2 separate regions of the Homo sapiens genome follow, and region 2 is linked to region 1. A link means that fine-mapping ties the variant in region 1 to the expression of a gene that starts in the linked region. Tissue or cell type: skeletal muscle. Region 1 holds a variant in brackets; the other region holds the start of a gene. All regions are shown on one strand. Distances are from middle to middle. Region 1 overlaps TFG (trafficking from ER to golgi regulator). Region 2 holds the start of TFG (trafficking from ER to golgi regulator).

What was found. PIP is the estimated chance that this variant, and not a neighbour inherited with it, causes the effect.
Region 2: it holds the start of TFG, and the variant in region 1 is the best candidate, but not a certain one, in a credible set for the expression of TFG in skeletal muscle (GTEx, PIP 0.54).

Annotation. Positions count from the first base shown.
Region 1 is chr3:100,737,807-100,740,723 of GRCh38, forward strand. All of the region lies in intron 6 of TFG (trafficking from ER to golgi regulator), which reads left to right. Among named protein-coding and RNA genes, the nearest start is that of TFG, 30 kb to the left of the region's middle. RefSeq lists an enhancer at 1-278. The variant G/A (reference allele first, on the strand shown) is at 1,610.
Region 2 is chr3:100,708,178-100,711,094 of GRCh38, forward strand. TFG (trafficking from ER to golgi regulator) reads left to right here and starts at 1,317. Exons shown (of 8, transcript NM_006070.6): 1 at 1,317-1,544. RefSeq lists enhancers at 885-1,776, 1,777-2,667 and a silencer at 1,414-1,643.

The DNA.
Region 1 (2,917 bases):
GGGAGGCCGAGCCAGGAGGATCACTTGAGCCCAGGAGTTTGAGACTAGGCTGGGTGACATAGTGAGACCCTGTCCCTACAAAATAAAAAAAGATTTAAAAAAATTAGCCAGGTGCTATGGCATGTGCCTATAGTTCCAGCTACTTGGGAAGCTGAAGTGGGAGGATTGTTTGCATTGTTGAATTGAAGTGGGTGGTCTAGGCTGCAGTGAGCTGTATCACTCCACTGCACTCCAGCCTGGGCAACAGAACGAGACCCTGTCTCAAAAACAAACAAAGCCAAAAAAAAAAAAATCCACAGAGTTGTCTGTTGGATGAACACCAGTCATTATGGACTAGCAGGTGACATTTTGCTGATGAATCAGTGGTTTGCGAAGAATTTCTTATTGCTTAAGCCTTTTCTCAACCAACTTTAATTAACTCCTCCTCTGCACCAAAATGCTACTGCCAAAACTAGAACAAACTAGAACTAAAGCAGATGTCAGCTGAAATGGACAAAAGCAGAGTATAGGTATGATGAGAGTTTAATGCCTACATCAAGCGAACTAAAGATTTGTTTTTAAATAAATCCCATTTTAAGCAGTGTATACTGTGATACAATGACAGTTGGAAGGATCATTGTACCAAATAATGTTTGCTGTTTATGTATAAATAAATGGGAATTAAGGCGCTACTAGCAATATCTAAACATTCTATGAAGTGTTTAATTGAGCATTTTCAAATAAGTAAAATTTTAAAAATGCGAAAGGACATACAGTGAAAATTCTCTCTCCCACCTCTGTCCACAGCAACCAAATTCCTTTTTTCAGAGGTAGCAGATTAACACTGTTTATATGCATTTAATTTTTAGAGTAGTATTGTATGCCTTGCTGCAATTAACTGTTAGCTTACATTAAAACATACAGTATGAAAATTGTACAATTAATATGTGACATCATTTAAACTATTAATAACTGATCTAATTCTAGATCAGTGCTGTCCAAAAGAATTACGATAGAAGCCACATGTAGTTTTTCTATTTAGCAGCATTAGAAAAATGTTTAAGAAAAGGTAAAATTAATTTTATTTAGCCTAATGTATCCAACGTGTACTCACTATTAAAAAGTTAATTTTTTTGGTACTGTGTATTGGAAGTCTGGGATTTGACACTGATTTGGAACACTTCAAACAACAAACAACATATCACATTTCAAACAAGCCACATTTCAGGTGCTCAATAGCCACATGTAGCTAGTGATTATTTTAAGAGCACAGCTTTAGATAAATATAGTCGTTATTTATAGATTCCCAGCATGAATTATAGGCTACTTTTACTTTTTGTTGTATAATGAGTCTTTGACATTGTCAGTTATTTAGATCAACTACTGGTTATAATTTGAGCAGAATTACCAACATAAAATGTATTACTTATAATTTGTTAACATAGCAATCTCTTACAATGTGTTAATAGTCCATACTAAAATTAAGAATTCTGAGTTGTTACTTAACTCCCATAAAAGGGACTTTGGAACTGTGAATTTTATTCCAAATAAATGTAGTCTTAATATGTTTTTCAGTTAAAAGGATCAACAAGATATTGAGCATCATTAAAAAAAAACCAAAAGGGATAAT[G/A]TTACTCTTTTTCATATAAAGCCAGTGCCTGTTACAGGAAGACTATGTGATGTTGCCAGAAATGTAACTGGTAAGGAGAAGAACGCTAAAAATCATCAGAGATCGGGAGATATTGCTGTTTGACAGCCTAAAAAAATGAAAAAGCATATAATTAAAATCTTTAAAATCATATGCCAATATAATGAAAAGCTGAGTAGCCTTTATTATGTAAATATTGAAACATACATAGAATAATCAACTCTTCATGTAGTCATGTGGCTTCAACACTTACCAATATTTTGGCATTCTTTTTTCATCATTTTTTCCCCACTGCACCCCTTTTAATTTGCTGGAGTAGTTTAAATCAAATTATGAACAGCTTATTATACTCAGGTATTTCAGTATATATGTCCAACTGATAATCTTCTTTTTAATATAACCACCATGCTGTTACTTAACAGTGATTCTTTTTATTTTTAATTGTGACAGGGTGTCACTCTGTTGCCCAGGTTGGAGTGTACTGGCTTGATTACAGCTCACCTGCAACCTCAACAGTGATTCTTAATGTCAACGTGTGCTAGTCTGTGTTTGAATTTCCCTAATTGTTTCAAGATTCGTTTGTTAAATTGACTTGTTCAAATGAGGGGCCTAACAAGGTTCACACTTTGCATTGTTAATGTGTCTTGAGTCGTTTTTTCTAATAGCCATTAGAAAAAACTTACATGTTTCTAAAATCCCTTACATGTTTCTAAAATCAAAACTATGTGTATTATTTATTACTGTGTAACTATTATCCCAAAACATAGATACTTAGACAACAAAAGTTAATTATCTCATACAGTTTTAGACAGATATCCCGGAATGGTTTAGCTGGGTGATTTTGGCTCAGCATCTCTCATGAGGTTGCAGTTAAAAATGGCTGCTGGGGTTATAGTCATCTGAAGCTTAACCAGAGCTGGAGGATTCAGTTCTTTACCATTTGGACTTCTCCATGGGGCTGCTTGGGTGACCTCATGACATGACAGCTTCACCAGAATGAGTAATCAGAAGAGAGTGAGGTAGAAGATAACCTTTTATAGCCTGTCCTCAGAAATGTCACTGTCATTTCTGCAATATTTTCTTGGTATACAGGTCAGCCCTATTCAGTATGTGAGGGACTAACAGGGAGCAGATACTCATGTGCTTGTTGCTTATTTGGTCATTTTTGTATTGTGGAGTTAAATCTTTCTAATTTCTAAGAATATAAACGATACCAACCCATTGTCATAAATGCTATACATGTGCAGAAGCCGTTGAGGGTCATGATAGAGGTTGGCTACTCTGTGTAAT
Region 2 (2,917 bases), 30 kb before region 1:
TAAGCGAGTCTTGGCCAATTCCAGCCGCCACACTTCAATCACTCATAGACTGCTAAGTGTTCAAATAAGGCCAACGCCAACCTGTAACCAATCCAGCTGTTTCTGTACTTCACTGCCAATTTCTGTACCTCATTTCCCTTTTTTTGTCTATAAATCTTCCACCACGTGGCTCTGCTGGAGTCTCTTAATCTGCTGTGATTCTGGGGGCTGCCCAATTCGTGAAATCGTTCACTGCTCAATTAAACTCCTTTAAATTTAATTCAGCTTAAGTTTTTCTTTTATAACTGGTAAACAACTGGAGACCAGGTAGGGTCTAAATGCTTTATTTATCAGCTTAGTCTCCACCTTAGAAGTGACAAACATTCTCCGTTTGGCCAAACTTCGGGCTCCTGGGCCTTCTCCTAGGACCATCTGTGCATCTTCTTGTAAAACTCAGTTTCAGCAAAGAACCTTGTTAAGGCAGTGTAGTGAGAATCCCTCACCCTTGATGGGGTTCCTCATCCTCCACCACCCCCAGGTGATGTCTGCTATCCTGGCCTATCTTCGTCTAGAATCCTGTTGTGTTGGTTTAGCCAGAATCTCCCTTGCCCCTGATATTTCCTCTTAGTAATTTTCCATCCACTGACCGACTTCCACCCCTTGGCTATAAATTCCTACTTACTCATACTGTATTTCTATTTGAACAGGTAAGGGAGAAGGGAAGAGTACGTAGGACACACTCAAATGCCTTATCCTCTAAAAATCACTCAGGAATCTTTAGCCTTAATTTCCCAGCTTTTGTCCTTTACACAGTTACAGATTTTCCTTGCTCATAAACGCTGTAGGTCTTCCCTGCTTAATTGGAAACTCCTTGCTCACAAAATGATTCACCCCCATTCCTAGAACCGGGCTTGGCAAAGCATAGGCTCCCAATAATGAATGAATGGATTTATAGAAGAAAAGGTTTTTTCTTTTTCAGCTGTTACTACAATGGTCAACAATAACGACAAAAACCACTTAAAGTTGGACAGACGTCTACTGCAACCAACTCTCAAAAAGTTTAGAACAGCGCACTACGCCCCGCCCATTGGCGAGAAACGGAAATACCCGCTTTCGAGAAAACCGGAAGTGCGTGGTCACGCCCCGCGCATGCGTGCATCGGGGCAGCTCACGCTTCCTAAATCCCGTCATCCAGTGAGAAAGCAGGGACTCTTCGGCCTAGGCAGCCGGGACCCAGCCAGCCCTGCGCCTCGCGCCGTCGCGCATGCGTCCTGGGTATGTCCACGCGCAATAAGGAGGGGCGAAAGGACATTTTTTTTTTTCTTGCTCCCGCCTCTGTTCTTCCCCCACCTGCCACGTACAGAGCCCAAGTTCTCGCTAGGCTTGTTGGGTCAGCGCGATTGGCCGGGGCCCGCGCGAGCCTGCGAGCGAGGTGCGGCGGTCGCGAAGGGCAACCGAGGGGGCCGTGACCACCGCCTCCCCGCGACGCCCCAGTCCAGTGGCCTCGCGTCCGCCCATTCAGCGGAGACCTGCGGAGAGGCGGCGGCCGCGGCCTCCGCAAGCCGGTATGGCCACTGGAGACGGGGGTTGCGGGCGCTCTGTCCGAGGAGGCCGGGAGACTAGGAGGCGCTGGGAGGGCCTCGTTCGAACCGCGCGGCAGCTGGGGTCGGAGGCACTGTGGGAAGGGGCTGGAGGGAGGAGGGGGTGGGAGGGAGGAGGGGGTGGGAGGGAGGACGAGGCCGGGGGGGAGGGCGGGCGGGGCCTTGCATGGGGGGAGGGGAAGGGAGGTCGCGGAGGGGGAGGGGAGAGAGGCAACCCCTGGCTGCGGTGGCCAGGAGGCGCGCCTGGGGGGCTCCGGGAGGGGAGTGCGCCAGCTAATGCCTTGGTGCAGCCTGCCTCCAAGCGTTTGGATTGAGAGGAGAGGGGCTTTGGGAGGTTTGGGGCGGCCGGCGCCCAATACCCGAAGGAGCTCGGAAGGGTGTGGAGTGGCGCCTACGGGAATAAGTTGATTGGGGTCATAGAATCGGAGCCTAGTTCCTTGGCTAAGTCAGCGCTTAATCAAGCGCCGGCTGGAGGCCCAGCCTGGTTTATAGTGATGATTCTAGCTAACTTTAAGAGTTTGCTTTGCTGGACACTACAGTAAGTATTTTGGATGCACTGTCTCATTTAATCATCACAAGGATTCCTCCAAATTCAGATATGGTTGTTTTCATTTCGAATGTGATGAAAGTGAGCCTTGGAGGACTTAAGATCACATAGCTAGTAGTGAGAATCTTTACCGTCTTGCTGCACTGCCTTTGAGGCAGGGTTTGAGGCCTCTTGGCATTCTTTAGAATAATTACAGGTTGACTTGGCTTAGTATTTCTTGAAGGAAACTGCTCCCCTCAGGAGGTGCTTAAGCCACAGCCTCTGAAATTGAGCAGGGTCTTACCCTTAGAGGTAGTAGAACCAGAAGTTTGTCCGCCGAACCTAGAACCTGGTTCAGGAGGCAGGCTTTTTATATGACCTTGGGCGTGTCAGATTATTCCCAGTGCTGAGAAAAGTGTACCTGGTAGAGGGTTATATTATACAAGTTAGAAGCCGAGTCATTTCTGGACTTCAGAGGGGGCGGGGCAAGGACAAGATGGGAGAAGAGCTTGTCGTAGGGCTCCTACTGGCAGTTCTAGGAACTAGTTAATACCAGTCTCTACTTTGGAAGAGAAAATGAGTACCAGAATTCTGTATGTGAAGTAATGTTGGGTTGGGATTTCCCCTTGAAGGGAAAGTTTTGTTGCACACTTACTTTTGAGATACTTTTGTGTTTACTCTGGGGAGATGACTGCAAGAGCAAACGACAGCTTTAGGAAAGAAGCACTGGTTCCTGGCCACAAGATGTTTACAGTCAATAGGAAACACAAAAAGTGAATTTGCAGGTAAACACGGCAGATAGAAAGTATAC